Linked DNA regions of Homo sapiens: region 2 is linked to region 1. A link means that fine-mapping ties the variant in region 1 to the expression of a gene that starts in the linked region. Tissue or cell type: macrophages after interferon gamma. Region 1 holds a variant in brackets; the other region holds the start of a gene. All regions are shown on one strand. Distances are between the middles of the regions.

Region 1 (5,288 bases):
TTGCAGTGAGCCGAGATCACGCCACTGCACTCCAGCCTGGGCGACAGAGCGAGACTCCATCTCAAAACAAACAAACAAACAAAAAAAAACAAGTAGCAAAGTAGTTAAGTACATGCCAAAAATCACTTCTTAGCAAATATAAGTTCTTTTGTTAGAAGAGTTTTCCACCCAACAGATTGTTATCTCATTAGCACTTGTGGTAAAGGTTTTGTTATAAAATGAAGGAGGAGGGGAAACTGACAGGACGTTGCCAGACTCATTCATTGCTGACTGTTGTCTTCCATCATTCTGTGTTTCTACATGACCAAGTCCAAATTCTTACAAACCTCCACAACTGCCCCATATTCTCCACTGTTCCCCACTGTGTACTCTCAACTAAGGTAGGCCAGGCTTTTTCAATGTCTCTGAAAATGCCATGCTCACAGTTCCCTAAAAACATTTCTGTTTTCCACCTGGGTTCTCCTTTATCCCTACCACACATCCAAATTTTATACAAGGTCAAATCGAATCTCATTTTTTCCATGACATCTTCCCTTACTACTTCAGCCCCTACTGATCAATTCCTTCTTAAAAATCCTATGAGTCCTATTGTTTTATACTATAAAATCTGGCTGTTAATGCTATTTCCTCTTGTATCATTCTTAACTGCGTAACATGCACACATATGAGGTCAACGAGGCAGGGAACATAAAACTTTGTATGATAACTTAGGCTGGGCACACTGGCTCATGCCTGTAATCCTGGTACTCTGGGAGGCTGAGGTAGGAGGATTGCTTGAGTCCAGGAGTTTGAGACCAGTCTGGGCAACACAGCGAGACCTTGTCTCTACAAAAAATTTAAAAATTAGCTGGGTGTGGTGGTGTAAGCCTGTGGTTCCAGCTACTTGGGAGGCTGAGGTGGGAGGATCACTTGTGCCCAGGAAGTTGAAGCTGCAGTGAGCTGTACTCCAGCCTGGGTGATGAGCGAGACCTGTCTAAACAAACAAACAAAAAAACAACAAACCCCCCCAACAAAACAAACAAAAAACCTTTGTAACTTAGACTATGGTGATGAGAAATAAAACCATCACCGCTATTTCTTCCTCTGTAGCTTTTGTATACATCCTTCATTTTCCTTAAAAGTACGTAACTGAAAGGACATAATTAAATCACAACAGAGGGTAAAATAATCAGGGAAAATGTGGATAAATACAGAAAGATATGAATTGTAGAAATAAGACATAAATATTTTGAGTAGAATACCTAGAAATATTCTTGAATATTTTCTAGGTATGGTTTTCATCAATTTTAGATCCAAAGAGGGGATGAGAAGATAATTTTTTAAATACTGGACTTTGCCTTCACCCTACTGATTTCACTGCCTAAACCAGGGGTCCTCAACCCCAGGGCCATGGACGAGTACCAGTCTATGGCCTGTTGGGAACCTTGGGAATGGGCTGCACAGCAGGAGGTGAGCAGCAGGTGAGCAAAGCTGCATCGGAATTTACAGCCGCTTCCCATCACTTGCATTGTCGCGTGAGCTCCGCCTCCTGCCAGATCAGCAGCCACATTAGATTCTCATAGGAGCGCAAACTCTACTATGAACTGCCCATGTGAGGAATCTAGGTTGCCCACTCCTTATGAAAATCTAATGACTGACAATCTGTCACTGTCTCCCATGACCCCCAGATGGGACCATCTAGTCGCAGGAAAACAAGCTTAGGGCTCCCACTGATTCTACATTATGGTGAGTTATATAATTATTTCGTTATATATTACAATGTAATAATAATAGAAATAAAATGCACAATAAATGTAATGCACTTGAATCATCCCAAAACCATCCCCCTCATCCGAGGAAAAACTGTCTTCCATAAAACCGGTCCTTGGTGCCAAAAAGGTTGGGGACCATTGGCCTAAACAAAAGACAACTTTTCCTCACTGTATTTTAAAAATTCCCACTTTATCCTTTTAAGCACATCTCCATTAATAGCCATACTTGTCTCACAACTGTAAAGAATATGTAAATAAGATGATAGTTTTAAAATGTTTTTGTTATTACAAACATTACTAACCACACATTAATAGTATTAGTAATAGTAATGGCTAACATGTAGCACTTACTATGTACCATGGACTATTCTACTTTACATATAATAACTCTGCTAATCCTTCAACCAATAAAATAGGTACTATTATAATATTATTATCCCCGATTTGCAAATAAGAAGTTGAGGCACACAGAGCTTAAGTAACTTGCCCAAGATCACATAATCAGTAAGTGGATCTTAGTGATTTAGATGAATCTTGGATCTAAGATTTAAATCTAAGCAGTTTGACTGCTTGGAATAATCAGATAGATGGACTTGATAGTATAATCACTGTCTGTATTGTCTCCTAGTATGAAAAACGATTAAATTTAATAAAGCAATTTAAGCCACTTATTTTTAGCTTCAAAAACTTCTATTTCCTGATATTCAAGAAATCTGTACTTGCAAACCATATTTTAGCCCAATAATTATTTAAAAAAATAAAGATTCTGACACCATCTTCACATAGCTAATATAAAATAAATTTAAGCAAACCTTTAGCATGTCTTATATTATAACCTGATATTCTGGCCAGAACAGTCTGTATCCACCGTGCCAGGGTCAAAAGTTGAGCAAGAGCATCTGCATTCTCACTGAAAAATGATATTTAAAAATTATTACAACCATGGGTACAAAGTCAAATGGAAAAGCTGAATTTGTATTATTTCCTTGGATAAATGGTCATATAAAAAAGTTGAGTTCCTCCAGATTAATTTCCTAGGTCACAGAAACATGTGTCTAAAAATGTAGCTTTTTGGAAGGGGAAGGAAATTTTAAACTTACAAGAAATAAGTCACCACCCACATGCCAATCACCCACAGGTAGTAAATGTCAGTAAATAGAATCACCATTCTAGTTGCTCCAGTCAAAAACTAGGTGTTGTCATTGATTTCTCTGATTCCCTCACACCCCACATTCTAATCTATTAATTAACCTTGCAGGTTTTATCTTTCAAATATATCCCAAGTTCATCACTTCTTCCTACCTCTCATTACTACCCCCTAATCCAAGTCACATCAGCCCTCACTTGGATTACTTAAATAGACTCCTAAGTGTTCTTCCTGCTTCTACTCTTGTGTTTCATTTAAGTATGAATTCATCATACAGCAGCTAGAAGAATTTTCTAAAAATGTAAATAGGATCATATAACTTCTAATCTTTGCTCATAATCCCTTTTATGATCTGGTCTTTGCTTGCTCCATTCCATGTTGCCTTCTTGTTGTGACTCAAACATGATCATGGGGTTCCAAACTTGGAGCCTTTG[C/CT]TTTTTTTTTTTTTTTTTTGAGATGGAGTCTCACTCTGTCGCCAGGCTGGAATGCAGTAGCACAATCTTGGCTCACTGCAACCAACCTCTGCCTCCTGGGTTCAAGCGATTCTCCTGCCTCAGCCTCCCGAGTTGCTGGGATTACAAGTGCCTGCCACCACGCCCAGCTAATTTTTGTATTTTTAGCAGAGACAAGGTTTCACCATGTTGGCCAGGCTGGTCTCGATCTCTTGACCTCGTGATCCGCCCGCCTCAGCCTCCCAAAGTGCTGGGATTACAGGCGTGGGCCACCACACCCAACCGAGCCTTTGCTCTTGATATAGCCTGTGCTTAGAATTTTTTTCTCCCAGAGAAAAGCAGTGATTATTCCTCACTTTATTCAGGTCTCTGTTCAAATGTCACCATCTCAGAGAAGAGCTCCCTGACAACTCTGTCTATAAATAGCCTCATGCCCCAGTCTGTCTTCAGCCCTTTAACCTACTGCTTTAGCTTTCTCATAGTATTCCTCACTACTCAACATTTTGTTTTATTTTTTTATTGCCAGTCTCTCCTTCCTAAAATGGACGTAAGGACAGGGACTTGAGACAGACTGTTATTAAGAACAAAGAAGGGCTGGGTGCAGTGGCTCAGGCCTGTAGTCCAGTACTTTGAGAGGCTGAGGTGAGTGGGTCGCTTGAGCCCAGGAGTTAGAGAACAGCCTGGGAAACATAGTGAAACCCTGTCTCTACAAAAAATACAAAAATTAGTGGGGTGTGGTGACACATGCCTGTGGTCCCAGCTACTTGGGAGGCTGAGGTGGAAGGATCATCTGAGCCCAAGAAGGTTGAGGCTGAAATGAGCTAAGATCACACCACTGCACTCCAGCACACAGTGAGACCCTATCTAAAAAAAAAAACCAAGAAGGACTAGAAACAGTGTTATTAAAAATAAAATAGGAATCTTTTTATTGAAAGAATAGTCTTGAGCAAAGGTAAAATATATAATGAACTGTGCCAAAATTTACCTATCTGGGCACAAATTTGACCTAAGAAGTTTTTTTTGTTTTCAAAAAATGGAAATGTACTATGACTGGTTATAACCAATTTTCTTTACAGATACCAGTTTATTAGTTTTAAATTTTTTCGTAAGTTTGTATTATACATTTTTAATCAAAATCTTAGTTTTGACAGTTTTTATATGCTTTTATCTTTACTATCTTAGATTATATTCATGCTGATTTCCTAAAATCCAAAAAAGGCAAATATAATCAACTATATGGGTAAGTCGAAGTATCTAATAAAACTGCTATGTATAATCATGTATTTCAGATCCTGAGTAACAGAATTGTTACTATAGATTAAAAGTGTGCCAGAGTTCTAAGAGACCTTTAACTAGTTCTAAGAGTTTTAAGGATCAGTTTTCTGAATTTAGAAAGAACTGCTCTGAAGCATCTGATCCTTAAAGTCATCAAGGAAAGAAGTAGCTAAATATTCTGTTAGAGAACAATTTACATAGTTTAATAATCCTATTTTGGGGGAGCCACTGTGTAAAAAAGGCTTGTACAAGAAATTGGAAAGTCACTTTATTATGATTTCCTTTATCTTTGTCTTCTGCTGTATAGTTAGGTAAGGCTTTGGAGTCAGGTCTGGGTTTGAATATTAGGTCTGTCTTGGGACAAGTAAAAACTATCCCTAGTCTCCAATTCCTTATCTTTAAATGGAAATAACAGTACCTACTTCAATGGACTACTGTGATAATTAAATAAGATAATGCAGCATTTGCTTGGTAAAATGCCTAAAATATATTAATTACTCAAATCAAAGATAATTCTTTCTCATGTTACCACATACGTTGAAGAAGACAATTTCAATTTAGGTTTATCAATGACATGGAATATTAGAGATTAGAACAACTCTTTATTTATTTATTTATTTTTGACACAGAGTGTAGCTCTGTCGCCCAGGCTGGAGTGCAATG
Region 2 (5,288 bases), 77 kb before region 1:
ACTTTGAAAAACCAATAACTTATCATTGCCACATTTTTAGTGCACTTTTTAGAAGTAAAATACGCTCGAAAATGGTCTAAATTATGCAAACTTCCCTTCTAGTATTACATTTAAAGATACTTGAAGCCCCACATAATTGAGTTCAATTTGCTAAAGCAAATGAGGTCTAACCTCTTGAAGATTTCCTGAAGTATTAAAATAATCAACACTTAAAATCAAAAGAAGATACAACAATCTAAAGTCATATATAATGCAATAGAGAATTTACTAAATTATGTATTAACCATAGTACAAGATAATGAGCAAGATATATTATTCTCAGCCCCCTAACCAATGTACAAATTTGCATCAACTTGATATTATATATTAAATTAATGAAGTTATGGACTTTAATTTCTTCTGTGTCTAAAACTGGAAGAGGGAAGAAAGCATTTCCTAACATTCTATCATAAAAGAAAAATGTTAAGAGAAACTTTCCTTTAAAACCATGCTTCATATGTCCCCTTCGGTGTCTTGATAAAATGTTATCATACAGGAAAACATAAGCTTCTAAATCAAAGATTTCCTTCAATGTTTTCAATTTGCATAGATCACAATATAACACACACATTATTTGAAACATTTTTTGACTTCAGACAAATGCCTCAAGATTAATCATATTAAGCTATATTTGTCATCATTACTGCTTCTTTATTTAAAAAAAAAAAGGAAATAAAGCAAGCAATACATAGCATTCAATTCCCTTGATAAGTTAAAATCATTTCCCCCTTCTATCCCCAAATGAACTTTATTCTATTCCATTTAGCCAAAGGTACACAGCCAACACATCTTTGTGTTATACTGTGGCAAATCAGGGTTTAGATACCAATGCAACTATTATCAATGGCTCAGAACCAAACATTGTTAACAAAACACACTGAGTGGATCCTCCCTCTGCGTGTGTGTCTACATGTGCCCATTCATAACATGACCCTCCTACACACACAGAAACTCAATTTCTACTGAATTACAAAACATCTTCACATTATTAGAAGTGTATAATAAAACTGTCCTCTTTAATGTTCAAAGAAAGAATAATTTCTAAAGCGATGAGAGAGAAGAGTTAATACCAGGATTGCTGCTACCCATCAACTTTAATTCAAAGCAAAGTACAACTCAATGTCATTTTTACCTCTACTGTAGCCTCGACGGATACAAAATTAACTTCGCTGTAGAATAAAGTATCCTGGCATCCCAATGGATTATTTACTTCTCCGATTTGACAGAACATATACGTGAGTCTTTTGTCCCTCCCACAGCATCCCAGGGTGTCAACATCATCTCTGCCACAGCAAATGACGAGCAAATCCCTCAGATCATTACTTCAGCACCCTAAGTACAAGAAAGTCGCGGCCTTCACTGTCGTTACAACACAGCAAACAGATTCAGTAGTCCCATGTTCCTTTCCATGATAGTTGGGGAGGCGGGGTGGGAAATAAGCGCTCAGATTTCCTAGGAATCCTTCGTGTTCGGTGCTGGTACCAGAAGTGGCATGGGTACAAGTGATATGTGGGTCACCCACAGAGAGAGACGCAGAACGAAGCTTCGTGACCCTCCAAGTTCAGTGAAGACACCCAAAGCCTGGGGCAAAACGAGGCGGCAGCCTTCGGGGAAATCGGGCAGAACCAGAACGATCTCCGAGATGGAGAGTGACGGGGTCTGGCACGAGCCCCGGGCTTGCAGCGAACTGAAAGTCCCCGGTACCCCTCCCCTCCTCAGCAGGCTCGGTCACTCGGCGAGGGGTGCGGCCGGAGGAGGGGGTCGAGACTGGGGGAGGGCGGCGCCCTGGGGGGTCGGGGGGTGTGTCCTACCTGGGCCGTGGCGGACGCAGGGGTTTCTGGAGGAGGGCTCTGGTCCAGCTCAGGACCGGGACCGGCGGGGGTTAACCCTCGGCAGGCGGGACCGCCACTGCCTGCCCATCCCCCACCGCCGACTGCGGCGGGACCCGAGCGCGGCTTCCAGGGCCGGCCGGCTGGGTAGTCCCCTGGGGTACCGTCCGCGTTTACTGGCGGCGGCGGCGGCGGCTGCTGCTGCTGTTACTGCTGCTGCCGGCTCCCCCAAGCCGCTGCTCTTGTGCCAGCACCTGCTCCCCCTCCTGCCGCCGCCGCCGCCTCGTCCCCACCGCTCCCATCGCCGCTGCGGCGACTACTGCAGAGCCCGCTGACCCGACCCGACGTTATTCTCCCCCCTCGTAACCCGACACAGCCTAGCCCACCTGCCCTGCCAGCGCGCACGCCCACCTCTCCGCTACAGGTGCTGATTGGAGAGTGCGTTCCGAACTCGCAGCGTCGGTTGGCTAGTCCCATTGCCTATCACGAAGGGGGCGGAGAGTCGGGCAGAAACCGTCTCCGCCCCCCACCGGAGAATTGCCGCTATCTTCAGGTTTGCCTGAGAGGGCGAGTTACCGGGAAAGGAGCATCACAATGGCAGCGCGCATGCGCCTAGGAATTCTGGGCCTCGTAGTTCCAGCCATAGCCGCAACTCCCCGCCTGTCCCGAGGAGAGAAGTAGGGCTTCCGAGACAAGTAGTTTGCGCACATAGGTGTTCTCCTAGCGTGACAGTTAAATTGGTTATAGAGGGATGGTTGGGACCCCATGGTTGGGCTTTTCGGAATAAAATCGGAAATGCTTTGTCACGATACGAAATTACACACTGAGGCAGTCGCGATGAAGGGCCCAAATCGTGAGGCCCTGCAAGCCTTAAGGATCCATCCTCTTCCTCAGCATCAGCGCTGACAGCATCCCGCAAATTGGCGCCGTCCCCAGAACCGCCTAACGTGAAGCTAATCATCTTTGGGGGACTGGGGAAGGGCCTTAGGTGTGACGAGGAAAGGAGATGGGCACTTCCATAAACGAATGTCAACTTGGAGACCGGAGTGTCCTTACGGTTTCACAACCCAAGAACAAGATTTCATTCCCTTTGTGAAACACCACCAGCTAAAGACTCAATGGCCAGCCCCGGTGCACACCAGTATGCGATGCTGAGCAAGTGTATGCGGGAGGTGCTCAAAGACTTTCAAAGAAAAGCGAGGAGGGCGGAGCAAGGACGCTGTGCAGGATGCGTTTCTATTTAGTGTTGTGTCAGTCGCTTTGGCGAAGGAAAACCTTAAGATTAAGCACCTCTCCCATCTTTGCCCACCAGTGTACAGTAGAGAAAACACATGAAAAACGCTAAACAGCTTTCCTAAGGCTATAAACTAATCAGTGGCAAAACCAAAACTCAGGTCTCTCATACGCCCCACATCTAATGTCCTTTCTACTTAAGAATCACAATGATCCCCAGGGTTCTGCCATGAATGGAAAGAATGTAATGAATTATGAACTTCATTTTTACTTTAAATCCTTTTCTTCACTCAAGTGACATTGTCATTAAAGCTGATTAAGAATATAGAAAGGTAAATGACTAATCCTATATTCAATCTTGGAACTGTTCCTATAGAATCTGTTTCTTCTTGCTCAGGAAGTGCCACAGCCTCTTGCCATTCTTTTTAAAAACAGCAGGCATCTCTACTCTCTGTCATGTCCAGATCCTTGGATTGAAAGCAGGACAAAATGTACATTAAAGGCAAGTGATGATGCAGCTCATCTTGTTCTATGCAAACATAAAGATGTTGCCAAATTGTTTTTTATTTCTACTGATTAAAACCACACGTTACTTTTTCTATTACTATGTCTAATAGAGTACTTCATTCATTTCAGAGTATTGACCAATCACATAATTTGAATAAGAAAACATTAGGGTTTCTGTAAATATTTTTCTTTAAAATTAAAGAAGTTTATAGGGGCCAGGCACAGTGGCTAATGCCTGCAATCCCAGCACTTTGAGAGGCTGATGTGGGAGGATCACTTCAGTCCAGGAGTTCAAGACCAAACTGGGCAATGTAAGGAGACATAAGGAGACTCCTTCTGCACACACACACACACACACACAAAATGATCACGGAAGCATGGATTTAAAATTTTTTTTAATTAGCCGGGCATGGTGGCATGCCCCTGTAGTCTCAGCTATTCGGGAGGCTGAGGCAGGAGGATCGGTTGAGCCCAGGAGTTCAAGACCAGCCTGGGCAACATAACAAGACCTTGTCTCTACACACAAAAAATTTTTAGTTAGCCAGCCCTGTCTCTACTAAAAATACAAAAATTAGCCAGGTGTGGTGGCATGCACCTGTAGTCCCAGCCACTTGGGAGGCTGAGGCAGGAGGATTGCTTGAGCCCTGGATGTCAAGGCTGCAGTGAGCTATTATCGCATCACTGCACTCCAGTCTGGGCAACAGAGATACCCTGTCTTTAAAAAAGAAAAAAAAAAAGTTTCTAGGGAAAAAATGTCCAGATTCATTGAAATTAGGCTTAGCAATAAAAGCCTCCCCTTTTCTCCAGTCTTTTCCATTTTAGAATTATTGAGCTGTCCCCAGAGATACTCTTTCAGTCAGGCTAAATGTCAATGTAATATGTTATTCAAGAGCTGGTACTGGAGTTTAGGAATCCCCTTTGAGTTATAGATATAGATAGATCTCAAGTATATATATAAAACTCAAATATATATGCATGTATCTCTTTTAAGAAATAAACTGAGCATAGTGGCTCACACTTGTAATCCCAGCACTTTGGGAGGCCAAGGCAGGAGGATCTGTTGAGCCCTGGAGTTGGAGACCAGCCCTAGCAACATAGTGAGACTCTGTCTCTACAAAAAATATATATTTTTAATTAGCTGGCCCCTGTAGTCCCAGCTACCCAGGAGGCTGAGGTGGGAGGATTGCTTGAGCCCAGGAGGTCGAGGCTGCAGTGAGCTATGATTGCATCACTGCACTCCAGCCTGGGTGACAACGCAAGACTCTGTCTCTAATACATAAATGTGGTAGCCAGACTTCCAGATGGCCCCCAATGATCCCTACCTCACTTACTCTCATTCTTATTTATTCCTTTCCATACTGAATTGGACTGACCTGTGTAACCAATAGGATTTTCCAGAAATTATGGTGTGGGAATATCAAGGCCAGGTTATAACAGACATTGTAGCTTCTGCCTTATGTGTTCTTGGATCACTTATTTAGGGAGAAGCCAGTTGTCTTCTCCTGAAGATACTCTAGCAGTTCCATGCAGTGTTCCCCTGGCAAGGAACTGAAGCATCACATCAATAATCAGCACCAGTTTGCCGTCTATGTTAGTGAGCCATTCTTAGAAATGAATCCTCCAGCCCCAGTCAAGCCTTCAGATGACTGAAAGCCCAGCTGGCTTCTTAACCACCACCTT

Direction of the effects. Alleles are on the strand shown, and positions count from the first base shown. SD is a standard deviation of normalised expression in the study named.
For the expression in macrophages after interferon gamma of the gene that starts at base 2,191 in region 2, C is the low allele of the variant in region 1 and CT is the other (large effect, 0.93 SD a copy in Alasoo 2018).

The links. PIP is the estimated chance that this variant, and not a neighbour inherited with it, causes the effect.
Region 2: TTBK2 starts here. The variant in region 1 is fine-mapped to the expression of TTBK2 in macrophages after interferon gamma (Alasoo 2018, PIP 0.95).

What each region holds. Positions count from the first base shown.
Region 1 is chr15:42,995,605-43,000,892 of GRCh38, forward strand. It overlaps UBR1 (ubiquitin protein ligase E3 component n-recognin 1), which reads right to left. Exons shown (of 47, transcript NM_174916.3): 33 at 2,564-2,661. Among named protein-coding and RNA genes, the nearest start is that of TTBK2, 77 kb to the left of the region's middle. The variant C/CT (reference allele first, on the strand shown) is at 3,333.
Region 2 is chr15:42,918,588-42,923,875 of GRCh38, forward strand. It overlaps TTBK2 (tau tubulin kinase 2), which reads right to left and starts at 2,191. Exons shown (of 15, transcript NM_173500.4): 1 at 1,851-2,191. RefSeq lists enhancers at 1,509-2,009, 2,010-2,510, 2,713-2,812 and a silencer at 1,783-2,192.